2 linked regions of the Homo sapiens genome follow. The protein of the gene in region 2 interacts with the protein of the main gene of each other region in a biochemical or structural test. Each region holds a gene or a part of one and is shown on either strand. Other genes may lie near its edges. The genes, in order: NELFB and NELFA.

Region 1 (14,908 bases), on a different chromosome or scaffold from region 2:
AGCTGGGGGTTGGATCAAGGCACTGGAACCCTCGCCCTAGGGCTGACCAACTTGGCCAGCGGCAAGAGAGCTGTGGTAGCCATGGCCTTGGGAGCTCGGCCCGGCTTGTGGGAACAGGAGCTCTGCTCACGGCTGCACCACCAGGCACCCCTGGTGAGACCCAAAGCTAGGAGTGGGAGCGGCAGGAAAGATGGAGCGATCTCCTCCAGCTGGGCTGAGGAGGGAGGGCTTCCTGGAGGAGGTGGTGGAGGAAGAAGCCTTCAAGGAAGAGCAAGAGTTTGCTGGGCAGCGGGAAAGAAATTTCTAGAGAAAATTTCAGCAGCGGAGACCGAAAAGAGAGAGGGTGTGTGTAGGGGGCTTGGCGCGGCACAGCCTGCGGGAGGGCGGCGGGCTGGAGAGGCGGGGAGGCCCGGGGAGCCCACCCGCCTGGGATAAGAAGGGACACTGTGGAACCTGGACTCTCCTTCACGGCTCCGCGGAGCTCGGTGGGCGCCACAGCCTCCCGGTGCCTGGGAGGGCGGCCGTCGCTCGCGCTCCCGCTGCGGGCCCGGTCTCCGCCAGGCCCCGGCCCCCTGAAGGCGCTCAGATCTCAGTTTTGGCGACAGCGCCGGGGTGGGCTTCGTGCCCGTTTCACGCGGAGGAACCCACGCTCAGGAGGGAGTCTGCGCCTGTGTCCGGCCCCTGCGGGGCAGAGGGGCGGGGAGCTCAACCCCCGGCAAAACGTCCCCGCTGCGCGTGGCTGCCGCGAGATCTGCAAGAGCGTTTTCCACGCTTATGTACACGAAATTCACTCGGCTGCGACGACGTCCGTTCCCGGAGCAGACGGACCCTGAGTCCGCCCCCCACGCCCTCACCCGCCCTCTTCTGCCAGAAAGCCCGGGCGCGGGCGGGACCGGGTGGGCGCATGCGCGCTGGGCTGGCTGGGCGGGGTCTCTCGCGCCGGGTGAGGGCGCTGCTCCCAGGAACCTGCGCGCGGCCCCGGCGGCGTTTCCCGGGGGCCGGTTGGCGGGCGGACCTGGGCGGTGCGGGGCGGAAGTGGGCGGCTGCGGGACGCGCGCGGAGTCGCGCGGCGGGCGGGACCTGGCCGAGCTGGAGGGCGCCGGGGAGCGGGGCTCGGGCGGTCCCCGAGGCCCGGCGGAGCGGGCTTCTGGGGTGTCTGCGGCGGCGCCGGGGGAACGGGCTGGGGATGGGGCGCCTAGCCGGGCGGTGGCCGGGGCCTCGGCCATGTTCGCGGGGCTGCAGGACCTGGGCGTGGCCAACGGCGAGGACCTGAAGGAGACCCTGACCAACTGCACGGAGCCGCTCAAGGCCATCGAGCAGTTCCAGGTGGGGCGGCCCCCGGGGCGGGGGGAGCCCAGTTGGAGGGCCGGGCCGCCTGCTCGGGAGTCGGGCCTGGCGGAGGCGCCGGAAGTTTTCCGGCTTTCTGCTGGTGGCTGAGTCCTGTTCTGGGGGTGGAGTCCGGAGCCAGCACCCCTTTGCTGGACGGCTGGGTGGCTTTCGGTGGCTGCGGTTACCGCCAGCACGGCTGGGAACACCTGGGTGCGTGCCTCCCTGTGCTCTCAGGACCTCGGGGTGCCCGGGCGCACTGGGCTGCGTTTGAGGTTTCTCTTGGCTTCCTCAGACAGAGAATGGTGTGCTGCTGCCATCTCTTCAGTCAGCCCTCCCCTTCTTGGACCTGCACGGGACGCCGCGGCTGGAGTTCCACCAGTCGGTATTCGATGAGCTGCGGGACAAGCTGCTGGAGCGAGTGTCAGCCATCGCTTCGGAGGGGAAGGCTGAGGAAAGGTGGGTCAGCGGGAGGGGTGGGCAGGTGAGATGTGCAGCCGGCCTCTCAGCCTTGGATCGACTCAGGGGCATTTATTGTCCTTTTGGCTCCACATCCTTGCTCCCAGAGGTGGCCTGGGCCTGTGTCTGAGTGACCCCTTGACCCATGTGTCCTGGGCGTGGAGGCTTGTCCTGGTAGCTGTTATCTGTGTAGGGACAGGCAGGTAGCTGCTGCGATTTGGCGCATCGCTGCACCATCAATCCTGTGAGTTGTTCCAGGTACAAGAAGCTGGAAGACCTTCTGGAGAAGAGCTTTTCTCTGGTGAAGATGCCGTCCCTGCAGCCCGTGGTGATGTGCGTCATGAAGCACCTGCCCAAGGTAGGGCCCTAACCCTAACCCTGATGGCGTGGACCGTCCGCCCACTCTCATGCCCTTGGTTAGTGGAAGTTCCGGTGGCCGCCTAGCTCCGGGAGCTTCCTGTGCTGCCTGCCCAAGTGCTGTCCATGGTGAGCTCTGTGCTGACTTCTCCCACATGAGCCGCGTGGAGACCGAACCTTAGCACTGGAGTTAGGGTGTGGGGCCCCTCCTGGGAAAGAGCTGTTGGTATTTAGCATGTCTGTCTGACATGCTGGGGCCGGGGAACCAGTCATAGGTGCCCTGTGGGGTGGAGCTTAGCTCGAGGTGGTCTCTGCGGGGCTGAGGCCTCTTGGCTTGTCTTGAAGGAGACCCAGGGACACAGGTGCCACTCACAGGCAGCCTGTGGTGTCATGTAGGTTCCGGAGAAAAAACTGAAGCTGGTTATGGCTGACAAGGAGCTGTATCGAGCCTGCGCCGTGGAGGTGAAGCGGCAGATCTGGCAAGACAACCAGGCCCTCTTCGGGGACGAGGTTTCCCCACTCCTGAAGCAGTACATCCTGGAGAAGGAGAGCGCTCTCTTCAGTACAGAGCTCTCTGTCCTGCACAACTTTTTCAGTCCTTCCCCCAAGACCAGGCGCCAGGGCGAGGTGAGGGGACAGGCCGTGTGCGGGGTGGGGCACCTCTTGGGGATGCCACGGCTAGCGCCTTCAGCTGCCTGGGGATCAGCACTCTGCTGCCCTGTGAATGATCGGGTGGTTCTGCTTCTTGGCTGGGTGGTGGGGGAGGGCTGGCTTGTACACATGCTGGAAAGAAAGTTGGTTGTTTTTCTGTTTGCATTTTACTTTTCGTTAAAGTGATATATGGACAACATTTAAAATCTGCGGAAAGCCCGCTCATGTGAAGTTAATCCCCCCTCCCCTACTTTTTTTCTTTTTCTTTGAGACGGAGTCTCGCTCTGTTGCCCAGGCTGGAGTGCAGTGGTGTGATCTCGGCTCACTGCAAGCTCCCGGGTTCACTCCATTCTCCTGCCTCAGTCTCCCGAGTAGCTGGGACTACAGGCGCCCGCCACCATGCCTGGCTAATTTTTTTTCTTTTTCTTTTTTTTTTTTTTTGAGACGGAGTTTCGCTATTGTTGCCCAGGCTGGAGTGCAATGGCGTGATCTCGGCTCACTGCGACCTCCGCCTCCCAGGTTCAAGCAATTCTCCTGCCTCAGCCTCCCGAGTAGCTGGGATTACAGGCATGCATCACCACGCCCGGCTAATTTTGTATTTTTAGTAGAGATGGGATTTCTCCATGTTGGTCAGGCTGGTCTTGAACTCCTGACCTCAGGTGATCCGCCCCCCTCGGCCTCCCAAAGTGCTGGGATTACAGGGGTGAGCCACCGTGCCTGGCTTTTTTTCTTTTTTTTTCTTTTTTAAGAGACAGGGTCTCACTCTGTTGCACAGGCTGGAGTGCAGTGGCGTGATCACGACTCGCTGCAGCTTTGACTTCCTGAGCTAAAGTGATCTTCCTGAGTAGCTGGGACCACAGGCACGTGCCACCACACTGGGGCTACTTAAAAATATATATATATTTTTGTAGAGGTGGGGTCTGGCTATGTTGCTCAGGCTGGTCTTGAACTCCTGGGCTGAAGCGATCCTCCCACATCAGCCTTCTAAAGTGCTGGGATTACAGACATGAGGCACCATGCCTAGCCGAGATTTGTTGGGGTTTTTTTTTTTTTTTTTTTTTTTGAGACAGGGTCTCACTCTGTCACCCAGGTTGGAGTACAGTGGTGTGATCGTGGCTCACTGCAGCCTCGACCTCCTGGACTCAAGCAATCCTCCTACCTCAGTCTCCTAAGCAGCTGGGACCACCGGTGTGTGACACCATGCCTGGCTAATTTGTATACTTTTTGCAGAGTTGGTGTTTCGCTGTGTTGCCCAGGCTGGTCTCGAACTCCTGGGCTCAAGTAATCTGTCTGCACACCTCAGCCTCCTGAAGTGCTGGGATTATAGGTGTGAGCGACCACAACTGGTTGTGAGATTTTTTAATTAGCCAATTTTTTTTTTTTTTTTTGAGACAGAGTCTTGCTCTGTCACCCAGACTGGAGTGCAGGGCCTCAATCTCGGCTCACTGTAACCTCTGCCTCCTGAGTTCAAGCAATTCTCCTGCCTCGGCCTCTCGAGTAGCTGAGACTACAGGCGCGCCCCACCATGCCTGGCTAATTTTTTTATTTTTTTGTTTAGTACAGACAGGGTTTCACCATGTTGACCAGGCTGGTCTTGAACTCCTGACCTCAGGTAATCCGCCCACCTTGGCCTCCCAAAGTGCTGGGATTACAAGTGTGAGCCACTGCGCCCGGCCCTAACCAACTTTAAACTAGCACTGTTCAGTGGAAAAAGCGAACTATAAGTTAAGATTTTTCAGCATCCACATTAAGAAAAAAAAATGAGATCAACTTCATTAATGTTTTCTTTGGTCCAGTATATCCAAAATATTATCTTTCAGCATGTAATTCATGTGAAAGATTGGGCTGGGTACGGTGGCTCACGCCTGTACTCCTAGTACTTTGGGAGGCGGAGGTGGGAGGATCGCTTGAGCTTAGTAGTTAAAGACCAAAGGGAGACCTTGTCTCTACAAGAAAAAAAAATTAAGCTAAGCATGGTGGTGCGTACCTGTTGTCTCAACTACTCAGGAGGCTGAAGCAGGAGGATTGCTTAGGCCTCGGATATTGAGGCTGCAGTGAGGTATGATTGAGCCACTGCACTCCAACCTGGGCGACAGAGTGAGAGATCCTGTCTCAAAAGGAAAAAAAAAATATTGAGCTATAATGCTTTTTGCGGGAGGATCACTAAGATTTGAAACCTGGTGAGTCTTTCATGCTTAGAGCCCATCTGAACTACTGCACTTCAAACGCTGAGCAGTTAGTGTGGCTCTGGGTTCCCTTCGGGCCGTGGTTCCTGACCATGTGCGTGGGCAGCAGCAGGCTTGTTGGGGGTGGCAGTGCCACCTCTGTCCTCCCTTCCCTGTTTGTTTATTCCCAGTTAGGTCCTCCATGGGCCTTTTTCTTGTTCCATTGCTGTCAGACAGAGCCCTTGGACCCCTCTGCTAACTGTGGGGTGCCCTGCATTTCCCAGGCCTTTCTCCTATCGCCTGTCTCTTCTGGTGACTTGGTGCTGCCTATACTGATTTCTGTCTGTAAGGGAAATCAGTCGGCTTGGTCGGCTTAGTCCTAGGTTGATTCTCTTTTATTTTTATTTTATTTTATTTTATATATTTTTATCTTGTTTTATTTTACTACTTTTTAAAATTTATTTTTTATTTTTTTATTATTTATTTATTTATTTTTTTGGAGACAGAGTCTTGCTCTGTCACCCAGGCTGGAGTGCAGTGGCACGATCTTGGCTCACTGCAAGCTCCGCCTCCCGGGTTCACTCCATTCTCCTGCCTCAGCCTCCCAAGTAGCTGGGACTACAGGCGCCTGCCACCATGCCCGGCTAATTTTTTGTATTTTTTTTTTTAGTAGAGACGGGGTTTCACAGTGTTAGCCAGGATGGTCTCAATCTCCTGACCTTGTGATCCACCTGCCTCAGCCTCCCAAAGTGTTGGGATTATGGGCGTGAGCCACCGTGCCTGGCCTATTTTTATTTTTATTTATTTTATTTTATTTTATTTTTGAGACAGAATCTTGCTCTGTTGCCCAGGCTGGAGTGCAGTGGTGCAATCTCGGCTCACTGCAAGCTCCGCCTCCCGGGTTCACTCCGTTCTCCTGCCTCAGCCTCCCGAGTGGCTGGGACTACAGGCGCCCACCACCACGCCCAGCTATGTTTTTTGTATTTTTAGTAGAGATGGGGTTTCACCATGTTAGCCAGGATGGTCTCGATCTCCTGACCTCATGATCCACCCGCCTCGGCCTCCCAAAGTGCTGGGATTACGGGCGTGAGCCACTGAGACCGGCTATTTTATTTTATTATTTTTTTTAATTTTTAAAATTTATTTTTTAAAATTTTTTTTATTTATTTTATTTTAATTTTATATTTTGTTTTATTTTATTTTAGTTTGTTTTATTTTTTTTTTTTTGAGACGTAGTGTCCTTCTGTTGCCCAGGCTGGAGTGCAGTGGTGTGATCTCAGCTCACTGCAACCTCAGTCTCCCAGGTTCAAGTGATTCTCCTGCCTCAACCTCCCGAGTAGCTGGGATTACAGGCACCCACCACCACGCCCGACTAATTTTTGTATTTTTAGTAGAGATGGGGTTTCACCATGTTGGCCAGGCTGTTCTCGAACTCCTGGCCTCAGGTAGTCCACCCACCTTGGGCTCCCAATTTGCTGCAATTACAGGTGTGAGCCACCGTGCCCAGCCCGATTCTCTTTTAAAAAGCTAAATTAGGCCGGGTGCGGTGGCTCACGCCTGTAATCCCAGCACTTTGGGAGGCAGAGGTGGGTGGATCACGAGGTCAGGAGTTCGAGACCAGCCTGACCAACATGGTAAAAACCCATCTCTACTAAAAATACAAAAATTAACCAGACCTGGTGGTGTGCGCCTGTAGTCCCAGCTACTCAGGAGGCTGAGGCAGGAGAATCACTTGAACCCGGGAGGTGGAGGTTGCAGTTAGCCAAGATTGCGCCACTGTACTAGGCGACAGAGTGAGACTCAGTCGCAAAAAAAAAAGCTGGGCGCAGTGACTCACGCCTGTAATCCCAGCACTTTGGGAGGCCGAGGCGGGTGGATCATGAGGTCAGGAGATCGAGACCATCCTGGCTAACATGGTGAAACCGCATCTACTAAAAATACAAAAAATTAGCTGGGCGTGGTGGTGGGTGCCTGTAGTCCCAGCTGCTCGGGAGGCCGAGGCAGGAGAATGGTGTGAACCTGGGAGGTGGAGCTTGCAGTGAGCTGAGATCACGCCACTGCACTCCAGCCTGGGTAACAGAGCACGACTCGGTTTCAAAAAAAAAAAAAAAAAGTAAAAAAAAAAAAAAACTGGGTCAGGTGTGTGGCTCATGCCTGCAATCCTAGCACTTTGGGAGGCCGAGGTGGGTGGATCACCTGAGCTCAGAAGTTCAAGACCAGCCCGGGCAACATGGTGAAACCCCGTCTCTACTACAATACAAAAAATTAGCCAGTCATGGCAGCCGGCGCCTGTAATCCCAACTACTTGGGAAGCTGAGACAGGAGAATAGCTTGAATCCGGGAGGTGGAGGTTGCAGTGAACCAAGATCTTGCCATTGCACTCCAGCCTGGGTGACAGCGCAAGACTCCGTCTCAAAAAAAAAAAAAAAAAAAATTGATTGGGTGTAGGGACCAGCCCCACAGGGTTGATGGGTTTTTCTCCCCGTGTGCGGAGATGAGAGATTGTAGAAGTAAAGACACAAGGCAAAGAAATGAAAAGACAGCTGGGCCCGGGGGACCATTACCACCAAGACGCGGAGACTGGTAGTGGCCCCGAATGTCAGGCTGCGCTGATATTTATTGGATACAAGACAAAGAGGCAGGGTAAAGAGTGTGAGCCATCTCCAATGATAGGTAAGGTCACGTGGTTCACGTGTCCGCTTGACAGGGGGCCCTTCCCTGCCTGGCAGCCTAGGCAGAGAGAGAGAGAGAGGAGAGAGAGAAACAGCTTACGCCGTTATTTCTGCGTATCAGAGACTTTTAGTACTTTCACTAATTGACTACTGCTATCTAGAAGGCAGAGCCAGGTGTACAGGATGGAACATGAAGGCGGACAAGGAGCGTGACCACTGAAGCACAGCATCACAGGGAGACGGTTAGGCCTCTGGATAACTGCGGGCAGGTCTGACTGATGTCAGGCCCTCCACAAGAGGTGGAGGAGCAGAGTTTTCTCTAAACTCCCCCGGGGAAAGGGAGACTCCCTTTCCCTGTCTGCTAAGTAGCGGGTGTTGTTCCTTCACATTTTTCGCTACCGCTAGACCCTGGTCCGCCTGGCAACGGGCGTCTTCCCAGATGCTGGCGTCACCGCTAGACCAAGGAGCCCTCTGGTGGCCCTGTCCAGGCATAACAGAAGGCTCGCACTCTTGTCTTCTGGTCACACCTCACTATGTCCCCTCAGCTCCTATCTCTGTATGGCCTGGTTTTTCCTAGATTATGATTGTAGAGCGAGGATTGTTATAATATTGGAATAAAGAGTAATTGCTACAAGCTAATGACTAATATTCAAATATAATCATATCTATGATCTATATCTAATATAACTATTCTTGCATATTTTGTTATACTGGAACAGCTCGTGCCCTTGGTCTCTTGCCTTGGCACCTGGGTGGCTTGCTGCCCACAGTTGGGTGTCGTGGCATGCAATTGTAGTCCCAGCTACTTGGGAGGCTGAGGCAGGAGGATCACTTGAGCCAGGAGGTCAAGGCTGCAGTGAGCCACAGTTGCAGCAGTGCACTCGAGCCTGGGCAACAGAGCAAGGCCTTGTCTCAAAAAAAGTAATAAAAAAAATAAAAATAACAGAACCTGCTACCATCAGACTGGGGGCCAATATTTAATGAGAGGAGGGAATGTTTTCTGCCAAAAAGTAGGAAGGACAGATGTCCAGAGAGAGGGCCGCGCTGTCGCCGGGCGTGACGTCCCTGTGTCTGGCGGAGCCCAGGACGGTCTGGGGGCCTGACAGTGCCTCTTGCTGCAGGTGGTGCAGCGGCTGACGCGGATGGTGGGGAAGAACGTGAAGCTGTACGACATGGTGCTGCAGTTTCTGCGCACGCTCTTCCTGCGCACGCGGAATGTGCACTACTGCACGCTGCGGGCTGAGCTGCTCATGTCCCTGCACGACCTGGACGTGGGTGAAATCTGCACCGTGGACCCGTGCCACAAGGTAGCACTGCCCTCCCTCCTTCCCCCCTACCCTCCTGAAGGTAGTGCTGCCCTCCCTCCCTCCTTCCCTCCCACTCCCCGGCCCTCCCTCCTTCCCCCACTGCCCTCCTGAAGGTAGCGCTGCCCTCCCTCCCTCCCTCCTTCTCCCTTCTCCCCCGCTCCCCGGCCCTCCCTCCTCCCCCTCCGCCCTCCTGAAGGTAGCGCTGCCCTCCCTCCCTCCTTCCCCCCAACTCCCCGGCCCTCTCTCCTTCCCCCTCTGCCCCTCCTGAAGGTAGCATTGCCCTCCCTCCTTCCCCCTGGCCCTCCTGGCTCCTCTCCTCTCCGTGGGTTTGGCTTGGCCCGGGACCACCTGGGCGCCCTTCTCTCCCATGCCTGTTTCCTGGGCTCTGGTCTTTCTGTCCTGTGTGCTGGCCCTTTGGCTTCTCTCCAGACCCTGATGGGGGAAGGAGGCTAGTCCCCTGCATCTGAGCCAGAGACCTGGCCGTTCCCGGGGACTCCCTTGCCCCGTCCAGCCCTTTCTGTGTTCCCGAGGGCTGTATGACCTACGGGCTGGACCTTGACCATTGCCCCAGCTTCCTCCCATCTTTCCACCTGGCCTGTGGCCCTCCCCTTCCCCAGAACCCTGGGTGCTGCTTGTTGGCCAGGTACCAAGTGCTCTAGGAACGGGGTTTCCCTTCATACGGACCCTCCAGCCCTGAGACCATCTTTCCGGGACTTGGGAGTCACCCTCCGAGGCTTCCATTGCTTGGAGTGCTGCAGTGGCCACCCCCACACTCAGGGTGCCATGAAGGAGTCCGTTTTTAGAAAGAAACATCATCACTTTCTCCACCACTGTCCTGACCCTGCTGCTTTGGCCGGGAGGTGTGGGGAACACTGCACCGTCAGGATGACTGGTGCCTGCTGCCGCCCCCCGCAGCAGCTATGATTGAACAAGAGGCCAGGGCCTGGAGCTGTGTTTGGGGCCTGGGTCTCTGGTCATCCTGGGAGGTTTGGGCTGGTCCCGACCGTGCTTCCTCCTTGCAGTTCACCTGGTGCCTGGACGCCTGCATCCGAGAGCGGTTCGTGGACAGCAAGAGGGCGCGGGAGCTGCAGGGGTTTCTCGATGGCGTCAAGAAGGGCCAGGAGCAGGTGCTGGGGTGAGGGTCGGCTCCACGAGGCCTCTGCCCCTCAGGGCCCTGCGTGCATCCGGTCTGCGCTTGCTGTGTTTTGCCGTGGGTAGCAGGCGTTTATTCCCGGATATTGCTTTTTCTTTTGTTTTTTTCGAGACAGAGTCTCGTTCTGTAGCCCAGGATGGAGTGCAGTGGTGCAATCTCTGCTCACTGCAACCTCCGCCTCCTAGGCTTAAGCCATTCTCCTGCCTCAGCCTCCCAAGTAGCTGGGATTACAGGCACGCGCCACTGCGCTCAGGTAATTTTTGTATTTTTTAGTAGAGACAGGGTTTCACCATGTTGGCCAGGCTTGTCTTGAACTCCTGACCTCAGGTGATCCACCCGCCTCAGCCTTCCAAAGTGCTGGGATTACAGGCATGCGCCACCGTGCCTGGCCTCCTGGATGTTTCAATAGAGCTATGCCGGGCACTGCTGGCCCACAGCTTAGGGACATGGTTGTCGGGATGTGTGTGGGTAGCAAAGTCTCCCTCCTCAACTCTGCATTCTGGAGCCAGGCCCAGGGGCTGGGGTCTGGTGTCTGCAGTGGCGTGGGGTCAGCCTCTGAGCTGAGGGGCATCCATTGGCATTTGCTTTCCAGCATCCTCTGGCTGGTGTATAGACACAGTGCTGCCTGGCCCTGCCTTTGCCACTTTTTTTCTTCCTTTTTTTTTTTTTTTTTTTTTTTCTGAGACAGGGTCTCTGTCACCCAGGCTTTAGTGCAGTGGTACAGTCTCCCTCAACCTCCTGGGCATTGATCCTGCTGTCTCCGCCTCCCAAAGTGCTGGGATTACAGGCACACACCAGTGCGCCTGGCCGATTTTTGTTATCTTTAGTAGAGATGGGATTTCACCACCTCGCCCGGGCTAGTCTCAAACAAACAATCCACCGGCCTCAGCATCCCAAAGTGCTGGGATGACAGGCGTGAGCCACCACACCCAGCCTTTTTTTTGTTTGTTTTTTTAACTTTTTAATTTGAAAAATCTTTGAATAGGTTAAGGACAAATTGCAAACCTTAAGCTTTTTTTTTTTTTTTTTTTGAGACAGAGTCTCGCTCTCTTGCCCAGGCTGGAGTGCAGTGACGCGATCCTGGCTCACTGCAAGCTCTGCCTCCCGGGTTCAAGTGATTCTCCTGCCTCAGCCTCCCGAGTAGCTGGGACCACAGGCGACCACCACCACGCCCGGCTAATTTTTTGTATTTTTGGTAGAGACAGGGTTTCACTTTGTTAGCCAGGCTGGTCTCAGTCTCCTGACCTGGTGATCCATCCGCCTCGGCCTGCCAAAGTGCTGGGATGACAGGCTGAGCCGCCGCGCCCGGCCTGCCAAAGTGCTGGGATGACAGGCTGAGCCGCCGCGCTCGGCCATCCTTAAGCTTTTTGTAAGAAACCCAGCATGTGATGGGCACCCGCTGCCAGTCCTGAATTCAGCCTAGGCCACCCCTCCTGAGGACTGTGCCGCTGAAGGGAGGGGCAACAGGCGTCGCATTAATGCCAGGGCGGCCTCCTTCCAGGGACCTGTCCATGATCCTGTGTGACCCCTTCGCCATCAACACGCTGGCACTGAGCACAGTCAGGCACCTGCAGGAGCTGGTCGGCCAGGAGACACTGCCCAGGGTGAGTGTGGGCTTGGCCAGCAGCTGTCGGGGCCATGCGGCCACTCCGCTGGCTGCTCTGGGTGGTCAGGGTGTGGACAGCAGCGGCCAGGTGGAGGCAGCTGTTGGGGCCCTGTGGCCGCCCTGCTGGCTGCTCTGGTGGTCGGGGATGTGGACTGCAGTGGCCCAGGTAGAGGCGTGTGCTTCCCCGCTGTGAGACTGCGTTTCACCCCGTGTGTGGGGCTGGTGATCGCAGTCGTGTGGTCCTGGCCATGGGCACCAGAGATCCTGCTGAGTAACGAGTAGGGTCAGAGGAGCTCCATGGCCAGGACACAGCTGCCTGGGAGAGGCGCTGAGCCCGTCCTCCCTACAGGACAGCCCCGACCTCCTGCTGCTGCTCCGGCTGCTGGCGCTGGGCCAGGGAGCCTGGGACATGATCGACAGCCAGGTCTTCAAGGAGCCCAAGATGGTAACGAGCCTCCTGTGGGGGCTGCCAGTTTCCTACGAGGGGTTGTGGGCTGGAAGTGGGGTGGAGGGGGAGGCGCTAGCAAGGTGATTGTGGAGGCCCCTTTGGTCCCAAAGCTTCCTTCCTGGAGCTGCCCACCTTCCTTTTGGGAAAATGCCCACCAGGGAGGTTCTGGGGTGTCTCCGTGGACCCTGGCTGGTTCTGGGGTATCTCCATGGCCCGTGGCTGGTTCTGGGGTGTCTCCGTGGACCGTGGCTTGTTCTGGGGGTGTCTCCATGGACCATGGCTGGCCACAGGTGGTGACTACTCCATGTGGGTCCAGACCTAGAAGGGGGTTTGAGGAGATGGCCTGGGTGGGGGACTCGGGAGGTGGGAAGAGGGACCTGGGGACCTGGAGAGGAGGGAGGGTCGGTGAGGTATCTGGGGGAGTGGGAGGGCCAGGGGCAGGGTGTGTGTCACGTCAGGGTGGGGTGGGGCAGGGCCCGGGCCCGCGCCCGCTCATGGCCTCCCCTCCTCGTAGGAGGTAGAGCTCATCACCAGGTTCCTCCCGATGCTCATGTCCTTCCTGGTGGATGACTACACTTTCAATGTGGATCAGAAACTTCCGGCTGAGGAGAAAGCCCCAGTCTCATATCCAAACACACTTCCCGAAAGCTTCACTAAGTACGGGCTGTAGGGCCATGGTGCAGGGGTGGCCGTGGCGCAGGGATGGCACTGTTGCCCAGGGGGCTGCCTCAGGGCTGGGCAGGGGTCGGTGTGGGGCTGAGGTGGGGCTGAGGTGGGGCTGAGGTGGGGCTGATGGCGCCCCGGGCGCAGGTTTCTGCAGGAGCAGCGCATGGCCTGCGAGGTGGGGCTGTACTACGTCCTGCACATCACCAAGCAGAGGAACAAGAACGCGCTCCTCCGCCTGCTGCCCGGGCTGGGTAAGTCCTGACGGGCGGTGCCTGGCTGTGTCTTCCCTGCGGCAGCTGCCGTATGCAGTCCTGCCCAGGGTGCGGGCCCCAGGGCCCCCAGGAGCTGCCTTGTCTCCCCAGCCCACCTCCAACTTTGCTAGCTTTGTTTTCACCTTTTTTTTTTTTTTTTTTTTGAGATGGAGTCTTGCTCTGTCGCCCAGGCTGGAGTGCAGTGGTGCAACCTCAGCTCACTGCAGCCTCTGCCTCCTAGGTTCAAGTGATTTCTCGTGCCTCACCCTCCTGAGTAGCTGGGATTACAGGCGCGTGCCACCGTGCCAGGCTAATTTTTGTATTTTTAGTAGAGACGGGGTTTCTCCATGTTGGTTGGGCTGGTCTCGAACTCCTGACTTCATGATCCGCCCGCCTCGGCCTCCCAAAGTGTTGGGATGACAGGTGTGAGCCACCACTCCCAGCCTCGTTTTCACTTTTACTTTTGTTTGTAGTTTATTTTACTAGGAAAGGGAGAGGGAGTTCAACTTTGTGCTTTCCCACAAAAAGGTGATGTAAGAGCTGTCTTTATTTCATCCTAACTGGCGAGGGGCTTGGGACCCCTCAGGTGCTCAGAGAATGGAGCAAAGGGGAGGGAGAGAGATCCCCTGCCCCAGTGCCCCACCCCAGGTGGTGACAGGCCCACTTCCTCCTGGGGGCCTTGACGGGGGAGGGGTTGTTGCAAGCCAGGAAGAAGAGGAAGGGTCCAAATGGGCACCTTCAAGAGTAGAGCTGCAGGTCCCCTGGGAGATGGGGCCTCTTTAGCCTGCTGTGGGTCCCATGGGAGATGGGGCCTCTTTAGCCTTGCGGTACCCACTGTGACACAGACCCTGGGCTCTTCCTTGCTGACTCAGGCCTTGTCTGGGGTTTGCTGTCTTAGTCCACGTTATGCTGCTCTAACAGAGACTTGAGACTGAGTAGTGTAGAAAGGGCAGGGACGGCCGGGCACGGTGGCTCAGGCCTGTAATCCCAGTGCTTTGGGAGGCTGAGGCGGGCGGATCACGAGGTCAGGAGTTCGAGACCAGTCTGGCCAACATGGTGAAACCCTGTCTCTACTAAAAAAATACAAAAATTGGTTGGGCATGGTGGTGGGTGCCTGTAATCTCAGCTACTTGGGAGGCTGAAGCAGGAGAATCCCTTGAACCTGGGAGGTGGAGGTTGCAGTGAGTGGAGATTGCACTATTGCACTCCAGCCCAGGCGACAGAGCGAGACTCCGTCTCAAAAAAACAAAGAGCAGGGACTTCTCCCAGTTCTGCGGGCTGGGATGGGAAGTCCGAGGTCAAGGGGCCTGCATCTGGCTGGGGCTTTTTGCTGTGTCATCCCATGGTGGAAGGCAGAGGGCAAGAGAGCACGGGCAGGGGAGACAGACAGACACAGACAGAGATGAGAGACAGAGACACACAGACCAAGATGAGAGACAAAGATGAGAGACACAGAGACAGAGATGAGACACAGAGAGATGAGAGACAGGTAAGAGAGACAGAGACAGGAGAGACATGGAGACAGACAGATGAGAGACACAGGACAGAGACAGATGAGAGACAGAGCTAGAGATGAGACACAGACAGACGGAGACAGAGAAGGGGCCACACTTACCCTTTTATCAGGAGCCACTCCTGTGCTAACAGCGAGAACGCTTTGGTGAGGACGGAGCCCTCACGACCTCAGCAGTGTTGCGTTGGGGATCAGGTTTCCGATGGTGAACTTGGGGACACGTCCACACCACAGCACGTGCCTATTGTGTTTCTCGGTGGCTGGTGTGTTTGAGGATGGCGCGTGCATGCGTTTTCCAGCTTTCTTTGTGGAGGAAGTTACCTGTGGGTATTAA
Region 2 (14,908 bases):
ACTTGGGAGGCTGAGGCAGGAGAATGGCGTGAACCCGGGAGGTGGAGCTTGCAGTGAGCCGAGATTGCGTGCCCCAGCCTGGGCAACAGAGTGAGACTCCGTCTCAAAAAAAAAAAAAAAAATTAAAAATAAAAAGACACATTACAAAACCAGTGAACTGGTTGTAGAATTTCATTCAGAAACACAAGTTGTAGCAGATGCCATGCATAAGGTTAACCTTATGTGTCAACTTGACTGGGCCATGGGGCACCTGGACAGTTAGTCCCTCATGATTCCAGGTGTGTCTGTGAGGATGTTTCTACATAAGACTAACATCTGAATTGTACTGAGTGAGGCGAGGGCCCTCCCTACTGCTGAGTGGGTCTCATCCAATCAACTGAAAACCAAAGCAGAACAAAAATGCTGAGTAAGGGGAACTCCTGCCTGTTTGAGCTGGAAGATTGGTCTTTTCCAGCCTTCAGACTCTGGCTGAAACATCAGCTCTTCCTGGGTCTTGAGTCTCAGGGCTTACATCACTGGCTCTCCTGGTGTGTGTGCATGTATGTGTCTATATACCCTCTTGGTTCTGTTTCTCTGGAGAACCCTGACTGATACACTGTGGAACACATCCAGCCCAGTCATCTAGTCACCCTGTATCTATGGTCCTATGTAGAAAAGTTTAATTTTCAGAATGATATCCCTAAGATACCAGACCCCTAAATAAATGAAGGAAGAAAACTAAGATAAATTAGAATGTCTTATAAACCTTTTTTTAAATACCAAGAAAATAAAAATATTTTTCAGAAAAGTAAATGACCCAGAATGGCCTAGTCCTTTCACAATCCAGTTAAATGAGGTCTTTATCACAATTTCTTGTAATACATAAAGACAAAGTCCAAGAAACATACATATAAAATAAAGCTGGTACATTTATATTAATGTTAGATGGAAGCAGATTTTAAGAACAAAACATTACTAAATACAGAGAATCTCTATGTAAAGATCCAAGGTTGAGCTCACATGGTAACTATAACAACTATACACTTGGATGCACCTAATAACACAGCCCCAAAATATATACAGCATAAGCTGAGAAGGAGGAACAGACAAACCCATAATCCTAACGGGGAGATCAACAAATCCTCTTCTCACTGATTTTTTTTTTTTTTTTTAAACCAAGCTGCACGTGCCTGTAGTTCTAGATACTTGGGAGGCTGAGGAATTTGAGTCCAGCCCGGGCAACATAGTAAGACCCCACACCTTTAAAACAAAAAACAGTTAAGAATAGAATAGATTTGTACAACATGATTATACAAATTGGCCTAATGAACATCCACTGAGCAATGGATTTCAAAACTAGAGTACATATGATTCGCAAGCTTACTGGCAACATTTACAAAAACTGACCATACATTTTGCCATTAAGCAGATCTTAAATTTCAAACGACTAAAATAAACCATATTCTCTGACAAGAGCTCAATACAGCTAGAAATTAATAATAAAAACAAAACTATCTTCCCCTCCAATGTAGGGAAATTATGAAACATTTCTAAATTACACAGGGATCAGTGAAGAACTTACTGAAATTAAAAAATAGTGTGACGATACAGTTCTGTGACTATCAAAACTTGTGGGATGCGGCTTACACTGTAATTAGAAGAGAATTTATGGACATACGCACATACACACACGAAAAGAAGCCTGAGATTGGCATCCATCTTTAAAACTTAGAAAAAGAGCAACAAAGTAAGTACAAAGACAGGAGAAAGAAAATTAGTGAAACAGAAATCCAAGTTCAACAAAGCCAGAAGCTGGTAGTTTGAAAATTCTTATAAAATCAACAAACATCTGGTGAGATGGATCAAGGGGGAAAAAATAAGAAATAATCACTATACATGCTTCTGACATTTAAAAAGAAGATGTTTGAGCTGGTCATATTGGCTCATGCCTGTAATCCCAGCAATTTGGTCAACCAAGGCATGTGGATCACTTGAGGTCAGGAGCTTGAGACCAGACTGGCCAACGTGGCAAAAACCTGTCTCTACTAAAAATACAAAAATTAGCCGGGAATGGTGGCACACGCCTGTGATCCCAGCTACTCAGAAGGCTGAGGCACGATAATCACTTGAGTCTGGAAGGTGGAGGTTGCAGTGAGCCAAGATTGCACCATTGCACTCCAGCCTCGATGACAGAAGGGTATTTGAGACACTCTCTCTACAAAAAATTTAAAAAAAAAGAAAAGTAGGCAGGTATGGTGGTGCATGCCTGCAGTCTTAGCTGCTCAGGAAGGTGAGGCAGGAGATCACTTGAGCTTAGGAGTTTAAGGTTACAGTGAGTTATGATCACATCACTGCCACTCCAGCCTGAGTGACAGTGACACTATGCATTAAAACAAACAAAAAAAACAAAACCCATAAAAACAAAAATCAATACTGAAAAATCCTCCCACAAAGTAAATTTCAGGTCCAGAAGGCTTCATTACCAAGTTCTACCAAATATTTAGGAAGAAATCACTCCATTAGTAAACAAACTTTCCAAAGAAAAAGAAAAGACCAGATACATTACAAATCCTTTTTTAAGGGTAGCATAACCCCAATACCAAAATCCAACAAAGACAGTCTGGGTAAGTAAAACTACAGGTCAATCTCACCCAAGAACAAAGATATAGTACAAAATTCCTATACAAAACATCAGGATGATATAATCTAACAACATAAAATGACCAATTTAGGTTTACCGCAGGAATGCAAGGTTGGTTTATAATTAAAGCTATTTTGTTAATGTGGTGAATTACATGTCAATAGATATTTAAGCATTTGATAAAATTTAAAGTTCCTTTGTGCTCACACCCACTAGGATCGCTATATCAAAAAGATAACAAATGTTGGCAAGGATGTGAGAGACTGAACACTCGAAAATCACTATGGAGAAAGTAAGATGGTGTAGCCACTATGGAAAATAGTTTGGCAATTTCTCAAAATGTTAAATATAGAATAACCTGGGCAGCCCAGACAAGTGGTTTCCCCCCACTGAAGCACACTCCCTCCATCATGGGACAAAGTGCTTCATTAAATGGGTCCTGCTCCCTATGTCACCCAACTAGGTGAGACCCTCCAACAGGGGTTGTCAGACACCCTATACAGCAGTGACCCTACTGGCATCAGGTTGGTGCCCCTCGAGATCAGAGGTCCCAGAAGAAGGAGCAGGCACCCATCTTTGCTGTTCTGCAGCCTCCTTTAGTGACACCTCCAGGCATGGGAGTGAATCAGATGAATATGGCCTGAAGTGAACCCCCAGCAAACTGCAGCAGCCCTACAGAAGAGGGACATGACTACGGCAAGGAAAACAAACGAGCAGAAAACGACAACAGCATCAACAACAACAACAACAACCACAACAAAAGCCCCCATCCAAGGGTCAGCAGCCTCAAAGACTGAAACTAGACAAACTCACGAAGATGAGAAAGAATCAACGAAAAAATGCTGAAAACCCCAAAGGCCAGAGTGCCTCTTCTCCTCCAAATGATCACAATGTCTCTCCAAAAAGGGCGCAGAACTAGACGGAGGATTGGATGGACGAGCTGACAGAAGTAGGCTTCAGAAGATGGGTAATAAAAAAAAAAACAATGATGAACTAAAGGAGCATGTTCTATCCCAATGCAAAGAAGCTAAGAACCTTGATAAAAGGTCAGAGGAATTGCTAACTAGAATAACCGGTTTAGAGAGGAACATAAATGACCTGATGAAGCTGAAAAACACAGCACCAGAACCTCATGAGTCATCCGCAAGTATTAACAGCCGAATCCACAAAGCGGAACAAAGGATATCAGAGTTTGAACACCACCTTACTGAAATAAGACATGCAGACAACAATAGAGAGAAAAGAATGAAAAGGAACGAACAAAGCCTCCAAAAAACACGGGATTTCATAAAAAGACCAAACCTACTACTGACTGGAGTACCAGAAGGAGACGGGGAGAATGGAAACAAGCTGGAAAACACACTTAAGGATATTATCCAGAACTTCCTCAACCTAGAGACAGGCCAACATGCAAATTTGGGAAATACAGAGAACCCCACTAAGACACTCCATGAGAAGATCAACCCCAAGACACATAATCATCAAATTCTCCAAGGTCGAAATGAAGGAAAAACTGTTCAGAGCAGCCAGAGAGAAAGGCCAGGTCACCTACAAAGGGAAGCCCATCAGACTAACTAATGGCAGACCTCTGCAGAAACTCTACAAGCCAGAAGAGTTTGGGGGCCAATATTCAACATTCTTAAAGAAAAGAATTTTCAACCCAGAATTTAATATCCAGCCAAACTAAGCTTCATAAGTGAAGGAGAAATAAAATCTTTTTCAGACAAGCAAATGCTGAGGGATTTTGTTACCACCAGCCCCGCCCCGGAAGAACTCTGGAAAGAAGCACTAAATATGGAAAGAAAAACCAGTACGAGCCACTGAAAAAACACACCAAAATATAGAGACCAATGACATTACAAAGAAACTGCATCTAGTGTGCAAAATAACCAGATACCATCATGATTACAGGACCGAATTCACACATAACAATATTAACCTTCAATGTAAATGGGCTGAATGCCCCAATTAAAAGACACAGACTGGCAAATTGGATAAGGAGTCAAGACCCATTGGTGTGCTGTATGCAGAAGACTCATCTTACACGCAAAGACACACACAGGCTCAGAATAACGGGATGGAGGAAACTTCAAGCAAATGGAAAGCAAACAAAAAGACAGGGGTTGCAATCCTAGTTTCTGACAAAACAGACTTTAAACCAACAAAGATCAAAGAAGACAAGAAGGGTATTACACAATGGTAAAGGGAACAATTCGACAAGAGCTAACTATCCTAAATATATATGCACCCAATACAGGAGCACCCAGATTCATAAAACAAGTTCCTACAGACCTACAACGAGACTTAGACTCCCACACAATAATAGGGGGAGACTTTAACACCCCACTGTCAATATTAGATCAACGAGACAGAAAACTAACAAGGATATTCAGGATTTGAACTCAACTCTGGATCAAGTGGACCTAGTAGACATCTACAGAACTCTCTACCTCAAATCAACAGAATATACATTCTTCTCAGTGCTACGTGGCACTTACTCTAAAATCGACCATGTAATTAACTGGAAGTCAGCAAATGCAAAAGAACTGAAATCATAACAGTCTCTCAGACCACAGTGCAAATTAGAACTCAAGATTAAGAAACTCACTCAAAACCACACAATTTCATGGAAATTGAACAACCTGCTCCTGAATGACTCCTGGACAAATAATGAAATTAAGGCAGAAATCAAGAATTTCTTTGAAACCAATGAGAACAAAGAGACAATGTAGCAGAATCTCTGGGACACAGCTAAAGCAGTGTTAAGAGGGAAATTTATAGCATTAAATGCCCATATCAGAAAGCTAGAAAGATCTCAATTAAAAGACCCAGAGATGTAATTAACATCACAATTAAAAGACCCAGAGAGGCAAGAGAGCAAACTAACCCCAAAGCTAACAGAAAACAAGAAATAACTAAGATCAGACAAGAATTAAAGGACATAGAGACACGAAAAACCCTCCCCCCCAAAAAATATCAACAAATCCAGGAGCTGGTTTTGTGAAAAAATTAACAAAATAGACAGAATGCTAGCTAGACTAATAAAGAAGAGAGAGAAGAATCAAATAGACACCAAATAATAATAATGATAATAATAAAGATGCTATCACAACTGACCCCACAGAAATACAAACTACCATCAGAGAATACTATAAACACCTCTACACAAATAAACTAGAAAATCTAGAAGAAATGGATAAATTCCTGGGTGCATACACCCTCCCAAGACTAAACCAGGAAGAAGTCGAATCCCTGACTAGACCAATAACAAGCTCTGAAAATGAGGCAGTAACAACCTACCAACCAAAAGAAGCCCAGGACCAGACGGACTCACAGCTGAATTCCACCAGAAATACAAAGAGGAGCTGGCACCATTCCTTCTGAAACTATTCCAAACAATTGAAAAGGAGGGACTCCTCCCTAACTCATTTTATGAGGCCAACATCATCCTGATACCAAAACTGGGAAGAGACAACAAAAAAGAAAACTTCAGGCCAACATCCCTGATGAACATCAATGTGAAAATCCTCAATAAAATACTGGCAAACCGAATCCAGCAGCACATCAAAAAGCTTATCCACCACGATCAAGTGGCTTCATCCCTGGGATGCAAGGCTGGTTCAACATACGCAAATCAACAAGCATAATCTATCACATAAACAGAACCAAAGACAAAAACCACATGATCATCTCAACAGATGCAGAAAAGGCCTTTGATAAAATTCAACATCCCTGCATGTTAAAAACTCTCAATAAGCTAGGTATTAATGGAACGTATCTCAAAATATTAAGAGTTATTTAAGACAAACCCACAGCGAATACCATATTGAATGGGCAAAAGCTGGAAGCATTCTCTTTGAAAACTGGTACAAGATAATAAGGATGTCCTCTCTCACCACTCCTATTCAACATAGTATTGGAAGTTCTGGCCAGGGCAATTAGGCAAGAGAAAGAAATAAAGAGTATTCAAATAGGAAGAGAGGAAGTCAAGTTGTCTCTGTTTGCAGATGACATGATTTTATATTTAGAAAACCCCATCAACTCAGCCCAAAAACTTGTTGAACTGATAAGCAACTTCAGCAAAGTCCGAGAATACAAAATCAATGTGATTTTAATAGGCAAGCAGAGAGCCAAATCATGAATGAACTCCCATTCAAAATCACTAGAGAATAAAATACCTAGGAATACAGCTAACAAGGGATGTGAAGGACCTCTTCAAAGAGAACTACAAACCACTGTTGAAGAAAATAAGAGAGGGGCCGGGTGCAGTGGCTCACGCCTGTAATCCCAGCACTTTGGGAGGCTGAGGCAGGCAGATTACCTGAGGTCAGGAGTTTGAGACCAGCCTGGCCAACGTGGTTAAACCCCATCTCTACTAAAAATACACAAATTAGCCGGGCGTGGTGGCACAAGCCTGTAATCCCAGCTACTCGGGAGGCTGAGGCAGGAGAACTGCTTGAGCAAGGGAGGCGGAGGTTGCAGTGAGCCGAGATCGTGCCACTGCACTCCAGCCTGGCCGACAGAGCGAGACTCTGTCTCAAAAGAAAAAAAAAAAGGCCAGGCACGGTGGCTCATGCCTGTAATCCTAGCACTTTGGGAGGCCGAGGCGGACGGATCATGAGGTCAGGAGATCGAGACCATCCTGGCTAACACGGTGAAACCCTGTCTCTACTAAAAATACAAAAAATTAGCCAGGCATGGTGGCGGGCGCCTGTAGTCCCAGCTACTAGGGAGGCTGACGCAGGAGAATGGCGTGAACCCGGGAGGCGGAGCTTGCAATGAGCCAAGATCGCGCCACTGCACTCCAGCCTGGGCGACAAAGCGAGACTCCATCTCAGAAAAAAAAAGAAAAAACAGAAAATAAGAGAGTACACAAACAAATGGAAAAGCATTCCATCCTCGTGGATAGGAAGAATCAGTATCATGAAAATGGCCATACTGCTCAAAGTAACTTACAGATTCAATGCTATTCCCAACAAACTACCATTGACATTCTTCACAGAATTAGAAAAAACTATTTTAAATTTCATATGGAATCAAAGAAGATCCCATATAGCCAAGACAATCCTAAGCAAAAAGAACAAAGCTGGAGGCATCACGCTACCTGACTTCAAACTACACTTACAAGGCTACAGTAACCAAAACAGCATGGTACTGGTACCACAACAGACCTACAGACCAATGGAGAAGAACAGGGACCTCAGAAATAACACCACACATCTACCAGCATCTGATCTTTGACAAACCTGACAAAAACAAGCGATGGGGAAAGGATCTTCTATTCAGTAAATGGTGCTGGGAAAACTGGCTAGCCATATGTAGAAAACTGAAACTGGACCTCTTCCTTACACCTCATACAAAAATTAACTCAAGATGCATTAAAAACTTAAATGTAAAACCCAAAACCATAAAAATCCTAGAAGAAAACCTAGGCAATACCATTCAGGACACAGTCACGGCCAACAACTTCATGACAAAAATGCCAAAAGCAATAGCAACAAAAGCCAAAATTGACAAATGGGATCTAATTAAACTAAAGAGCTTCTGCTCAGCAAAAGAAACTATCATCAGAGTGAAGAGGCAACCTACAGAATGGGAGAAAATTTTTGCAATCTACTCATCTGACAAAGGGCTAATATCCAGCATTTACAAGGAACTTAAACATATTTGTAAGAGAAAAACAACCCCATCAAAAAGTGGGCAAAGGAGGTGAACAGATACCTCTCAAAAGAAGACATTTATGAGGCCAATAAACATGAAGAAAAGCTCTACGTCACTGATCATCAGAGAAATGCAAATCAAAACCACAATGAGATACCATCTCACGCCAGTCAGAAGGGTGATTACTAAAAAGTCAGGAAACAATAGATGCTAGCGAGGCTGTGGAGAAATAGGAAGGCTTTTACACTTTTGCTGGGAGTGTAAATTAGTTCAACCATTGTGGAAGACAGCATGGCGATTCCTCAAGGATCTAACACCAGAAATACCATTTGACCCAGCAATCCTGTTACTGGATATATACCCAAAGGAATATAAATCATTCTGCTATAAAGACACACGTACAGGTATGTTTACTGCAGCACTGCTTAGAATAGCAAGGACATGGAACCAACCCAAATGCCCATCAATGATGGACTGGATAAAGAAAATGTGATACATATACACCATGGAATACTACGCAGCCATAAAAAGGAATGAGATCCTGTCCTTTGCAGGGACATGGATGAAGCTGGAAGCCATCATCCTCAGCAAACTAACAAAGGAACAGAAAACCAAACATTGCATGTTCTCACTCATAAGTGGCAGGTAGTTGAACACTGAGAACACATGCACACAGAGAGGGGAACAACACACACCAGGGCCTAATAGGGGTGGGAGTGAGGGGAGGGAACTTAAAGGACGGGTCAATAGGTGCAGCAAACCATGGCACACGTATACCTATGTAACAAATCTGCATGTTCTGCATATGCATCCTTTTTTTTTTTTTTTTTTTAAAGAAGAAATAAAGGCCGGGAGCAGTGGCTCATGCCTGTAATCCCAGCACTTTGGGAGGCCAAGGCAGGTGGATCACAAGGTCAAGAGATGGAGACCATCCTGGCCAACACGGTGAAACCCCGTCTCCACTAAAAATACAAAAATTAGCTAATTAGCTGGGCATGGTGGCGCGTGTCTCTAGTCCCAGCTACTCGGGAGGCTGAGGCAGGAGAATCCCTTGAACCTGGGAGGCGCAGGTTGTGGTGAGCCGAGATCGCGCCACTGCACTCCAGCCTGGCGACAGGGCAAGACTCTGTTTCAAAAAAAAGAAAAAAAAAGAAGAAGAAGAAAAAAGAAAACATTACATTAAGTGAAAGAAGTCAGGCACAAAAGACCAGATGTATGATTCTATTTATATAAAATATCCTGAATAGACAAATCTATAGAAGCAAAAAGTAGATTACTAGTCACCTAGGAGTGGGGAGGAAGAGGACTGGGCAAATGCTAATGAGTGTAGGATTTATTTGGGGGATGATGAAAATGTTTGAAAATTGACTAGCATGACCATCAAACCTGTAAATATACTAAAAACTACTGAAGTGTACATTTTAAATGGTGAACTACCTGGCATAATTATATGGTACATAAAATAATATCTTTTTTCTTTTGAGACAGGGTCTCATTCTGTCGGCCAGGCTAGAGTGCAGTGATGCAATCATGGCTCGCCGCATCCTCAACCTCCCAGGCTCAAGTGATCCTCTCGCCACAGCCTCCCAAGTAGCTGGGACCACAGCCATGTGCCGCCACCCCTGGCTAATTTTTATATTTTTTATGGAGACAGGGTTTCACCATATTGCTCAGGCTGATCTCGAATGCCTGGGTTCAAGCAATCCGCCCATCTTGGCCTCCCAAAGTGCTGAGATTACAGGCATGAGCTACTGCACCCAGCTATACATTATATTTTAATAAAGCTTTTTTTTTTTTTTTGGAGACAGAGTCTTGCTGTCGCCCAGGCTGGAGTGCAGTGGCGCGATCTCAGCTCACTGCAAGCTCTGCCTCCTGGGTTCACGGCATTCTTCTGCTTCAGCCTCCCTAGTAGCTGGGACTACAGGCGCCTGCCACCATGCCCGGCTAATTTTTTTGTATTTTTTCTTTAGAGACGGGGTTTCACCATGTTAGCCAGGATGGTCTCGATCTCCTGGCCTCGTGATCCGCCCGCCTCGGCCTCCCAAAGTGCTGGGATTACAGGTGTGAGCTACTGCACCCAGCCAATAAAGCTATTTTAAAAAAATTCATGATTAAAAGATTTTTTTTTACAAGTCTTCTAAGAAGAGAATTTCCTTAACTAGATAAAGGGTATTTATTAAAGACAACAGGAAACATAATGCTCACTGGCAAAACATTCCGAGTTCTCCCTGTGTGATCGGAGGTAAGACAATGAGCTGGAGGGTCCTAGCCAGTCCAGTGAGACGAGAAAAAAAACAAAAGGTAATTGGAGAAAGAAAAATAATATGAAGTGCACAGAAAAATCAAGGAGATTCTATAGAAAAAAAAAATTTTGCAACTAGCAAAACTTTAGCACAGATACTAGTCACAAATTCATTATCCAAAAATCAGGCTGGGCATAGTGGCTCACCTGAGGTCAGGAGTTCGAGAGCAGCCTGGCCAACATGGTGAAACCCCATCTCTACTAAAAATACAAAAATTAGCCAGGTGTGGTGGTGCATGCCTGTAATCCCAGTTACTCGGGAAGCTAAGGTAGGAGAATCACCTGAGCTCAGGAGGAGGAGGTTGCAGTGAGCTGAGATCGCGCCACTGCTCTCCAGCCTGGGTGAGAGAGTGAGATCTCCGTCTAAAAAACAAACAAACAAACAAACAAACAAAAACAAAAATCAACGCATTTCTATATACCAGCAACAAGTAAAAACTAAGACTTTAACAGATACCATTTACAACGGCATGGAAAAATATGAAATAGGTGGTAATATATGAGATGGAAGACCCCTACAGAGATCACAAAGAACATCTAAATAGATAAGCCCACACCCACAAATTATAGGATGCAATATAAAGAGGACAGCACCCCAGAATGAACTGCAAGTTCAGCTCAGCCTTAAAATCCCAGCAGGCAGGCTCTACGTGTTTAAGAAGTAAGTATATAAGATACATGTGGAAGTGTGAAGGGACAAGAATAGCCATAGATGATCCCGGAGAAAGATACAGTGGGAGGGTTTGCTCCGTCCGCTAACAAGGCTTATAAATAAAGTGACAAGAACCGACTTAGTGGGTTATTAGCACATCGATATGTAAATGACCAAAAGAACAGAGCACAGCCCAGAAACACATCCACAGCAGAAGCTGCAGTGCAGATCAATGGAAAAGGACAGTCATTTCAATCAACGTTGGGTGCTGGACTAATTGCACATCCATGTGGAAAATTAGACTCCCTGCTTCACACAATCATCAATTCCACGCAGACTGAAGATTCAAGTGCGAAAGGTAAAACTGTACAGCTACGCCAAGATAACCCAGGGAGTGTTCCGGGCATGTCCCTCGGGGAGACACAATAGGCACCAATGATAGTGGGCGGATGAATACACCATCTATGTTAAAACTAGGAGCTTCTATTCATCCATGATTCCAGGAAAAGGGCTGGGCGCACAGATCACACCTGTAATCCCAACACTATGGGAGGCCAAGGCAGGAGGATCACTTGAGGCTAGGAGTTCAAGACCAGCCTGGGCAATACAGTAAGACCCCCATCTCCATACACATGCACAAAAATTAGCCAGGCGTGGTGGCAGCGCATCAGTCCCAGCTACTACAGAGGTTTAGGAGGGAGGACTGCTTAAGCCCAGGAGTTCAAGGTTAAAGTGAGCTATGATTATACCACTAGACTCTAGCCTGGGTGACAGAGTGAGACGCTGTCTCAAAAAAAAAAAAAAAAAAAAAAAAAAGGATTCCAGGAAGCTAAGTCAAAGTCAAAGGACAACTGGGAGATATTTGTAACTGAAAAAGGACTGATATCTAGCATTTATAATAAATAATAAAAAAGACACTCTTACAAAACAATGGGAAAAAAGAGAATTTAAAAGCAGATTTGAATATACAATTCTCAAAGCAGAAAACCAAACAGCAGGCCGAGTGCCATGGCTCACACCTGTAATCCCAGCCCTTCAGGAGGCTGAGGCAAGCAGATTGCTTGAGGTCAGGAGTTCAAGACCAGCCTGGGCAGCATGGTGAAACCCTGTAGTCCCAGCTACTCAGGAGGCTGAGATGGGAAGATCTGAGGTGAGGAGGTCAAGGCTGCAGTGAGTCACGATGGTGCCACTGCACTCCAGCCTGGTTGACAGCGCCAGACCCTGTCTCAAACAAAACACAAACACAAAAACAAAACACTCTGAAAAATAATTTGGCATGATCCTATGATCCTCACAATTCCACTCCTAGATGTTATACCCTAGAGAAATCCAAGATTCCAAACACCTGAACATATGACCGTAATGTAGTAACGGGATGATTTACAAGAGCACAAAAGCTAAGCGTGTCACTGTGGCAGAATGGATAAAGTGCCTCGTGCTCACAGACAGGAATACCACGCAGCAGTGAAAATTAAACTGCAGTCAGCTGCAACGTGGATGAAACTGTCACGGCGTCGACCAAAAAGACACATGCACGCCACACACAAAATACACTATGATACCATCACACTAACTCCAAATCCGGCAACCAAGCTGTGCCATTTAGGGGTGCATAAATAATTGCTCACACCGGGGAGATGGCACAGAAATGATTACCTTTCCAAAATGAGGAAGGGGAAAGGAAGAAGGCCGTGATTACCAGTGGGAGGCTTCCAAGGAACAGGCATGGTTCTACTTCTCCACCTGTGTAAGGATCACAGGAGTGGCTCGCGATGCTATTATTATTCGTTAAACTGAACAAAAATGCACTTTTCCATACATGTCATATCTCAATCAAAAGCAATTACAACCTATAATAGCTAATAATACATCAGTAGCCAGGAACGTTTAAACAACCATGGGGCTTCAATAGTCTGCAAAACTACTCGGTTTATTTCGCACGGAAAGCGATACAATATAAAGTTTAGGAAAAAAGAAAACAAACCTCACACACCCACTTATTGGAATGACGCAAAACGGCGTGTAGAAAAGAGTAAAACGGACACAGAGCGCTCCGGACGGCCGGGGTCTTTGCGAGGTGAGAACAAGAAAATCCAGTCAGCGGACACTGGAGCTACCGAGCCCAGGCCGCCCCTTCCTCACGCGGGGGTTTCTCTCGGGATCCCCGCCCTCGCCCAGGTCACCAGGGCTGCGTCCCCGACGGGAAACCCCGATGGGAGACCCCGCTGGGGCCGGCGCACCCCCGCTCCAAGAGTCGGTCGCTTCGGCACGGTGGGGGATTAGGGTGGTGAGGACCGAAGGCGGGGGAGGCGGGGGCGGGTGGGGATGAGTACCCGGGGGCCCAGGGAGGGGAGTGAGGACCTGGGGGTCGTAGCGAGAACCCGGGGCCCGGCGGGGAGGAGATTGAGGATCCCAGGGGAGGTGAAAACTTGGGTAGGGGTGAGGACGAAAAGTAGGGAGGTGAGGACCCTAGTGGGGGATTCCCAGGGGGCGAGGAGGGGCGGGGGGTCCTGAAGACCCACGGTGGGGATGAGAACCGAGGTGGGAGATGAGGATCGAGGCGGGGGATGAGGACCCAGGGGGAGGTGAGGACTGGAGGGAGGTATTCGGAGGAGCGAGGAGGGGGCGTGAGGGCGGGCCGGGGGGGTTAACAGTCTGAAGGGGGATGGGAAGGTTGGGGGAGGGAGCGAGGAGGGTCCGGAGTTGGGTGTGCGGGTCGGAGGTGGGAAGGTTGGGAATCTGGGGGCCGCGGGGCGCCACGCCTGCCTTACCTCGTCCACCGTGCGGCGCGGGAGGTGCAGCGTCCCGAGTAGCAACTTGAGCTTCACTGCCGACGAGAGGCCATGGAAGCAGAGACGGATGTTGTCGATGACCGCGGCCGTGAGCAGGGACGCGATGCTGGGCGGCGCCCACAGCTCGTCCGTGGCCCCCAGCTTGTTGTGCAGCCACAGGCCCGTGTCGCTCTCCCGCATGGACGCCATCTTGGGGGAAAGCGCGCGCCGCTGCCCCGGCATCTTATGAAGACACCTACGCGTCCCTCGCTAGGACCCCAACATGGCGGCGCCCGTCGGGCTGCGGGCCGCAGAGGCGGCGCAGGTGGCGCGGTCCCACGAGCGGGGCTTCCCGGGAGAGCGCTTCTGGGTGGCGACCGCGTCTCCGGGTAGCGGCCGCGTCTTCGGGAAGCTTTGTGGCAAAGCCGAGAGCCGGAAGGACGGGGTGCCGCTGAGCAAGGACTATCGGCTTCCGTAAAACATCATGGCGGCGCCCTCTGCTGGCTCTCGGGAAGACCGCAAAAAATGACGTCACGAGCAGGCGCGCGTATTCGCGTCTTGGGAGCCCGGGCTGCGGCCTGGCATTCGCAGTGCAGGTGTCAAGCGCCGCAGACTTGCTGCTCGCGCGGTGGGGCGGAGGCTCCCTGTGGCACCTGCCCCGCTGTCCGCTCTTCGCTTTTTCCCCGCTTGGGTCTCGGCGCGGACCGTGTGGACGCCCCGCCCCCGCGGGCCCAGCACCTGCACGGAGAGGAGCCGCGGCCCTGCGGAGCGAGCCTGCGGGATCCCGGTCGCAGCGCTGAGCTTCCGTCCCCCGCTGAGCCCGCTCTGCCCGTGGCGCGCCGCCGACGGGGCTGCGCTGAGCATGCGGGTCGGAGGGCGCTCGGGAGCTGTCCAGGGGCACT

What was found.
Region 1: the proteins of NELFA (region 2) and NELFB form a complex in vitro, tested with the Homo sapiens proteins (one study listed by BioGRID).

Annotation. Positions count from the first base shown.
Region 1 is NC_000009.12:137,254,286-137,269,193, forward strand, and holds the start of NELFB (negative elongation factor B), read left to right. Parts: upstream 1-1,041; 5' UTR 1,042-1,080; coding exon 1,081-1,326; intron 1,327-1,621; coding exon 1,622-1,785; intron 1,786-2,043; coding exon 2,044-2,143; intron 2,144-2,538; coding exon 2,539-2,769; intron 2,770-8,751; coding exon 8,752-8,937; intron 8,938-9,959; coding exon 9,960-10,072; intron 10,073-11,591; coding exon 11,592-11,694; intron 11,695-12,045; coding exon 12,046-12,141; intron 12,142-12,658; coding exon 12,659-12,801; intron 12,802-12,954; coding exon 12,955-13,061; intron 13,062-14,908. UniProt on the Homo sapiens protein: Essential component of the NELF complex, a complex that negatively regulates the elongation of transcription by RNA polymerase II.
Region 2 is NC_000004.12:1,994,744-2,009,651, forward strand, and holds the start of NELFA (negative elongation factor A), read right to left. Parts: upstream 14,232-14,908; 5' UTR 14,217-14,231; coding exon 14,007-14,216; intron 13,304-14,006; coding exon of another isoform or gene 13,220-13,303; intron 1-13,219. Other genes in the region: uncharacterized protein LOC124900839, read right to left, coding at 14,263-14,908. UniProt on the Homo sapiens protein: Essential component of the NELF complex, a complex that negatively regulates the elongation of transcription by RNA polymerase II.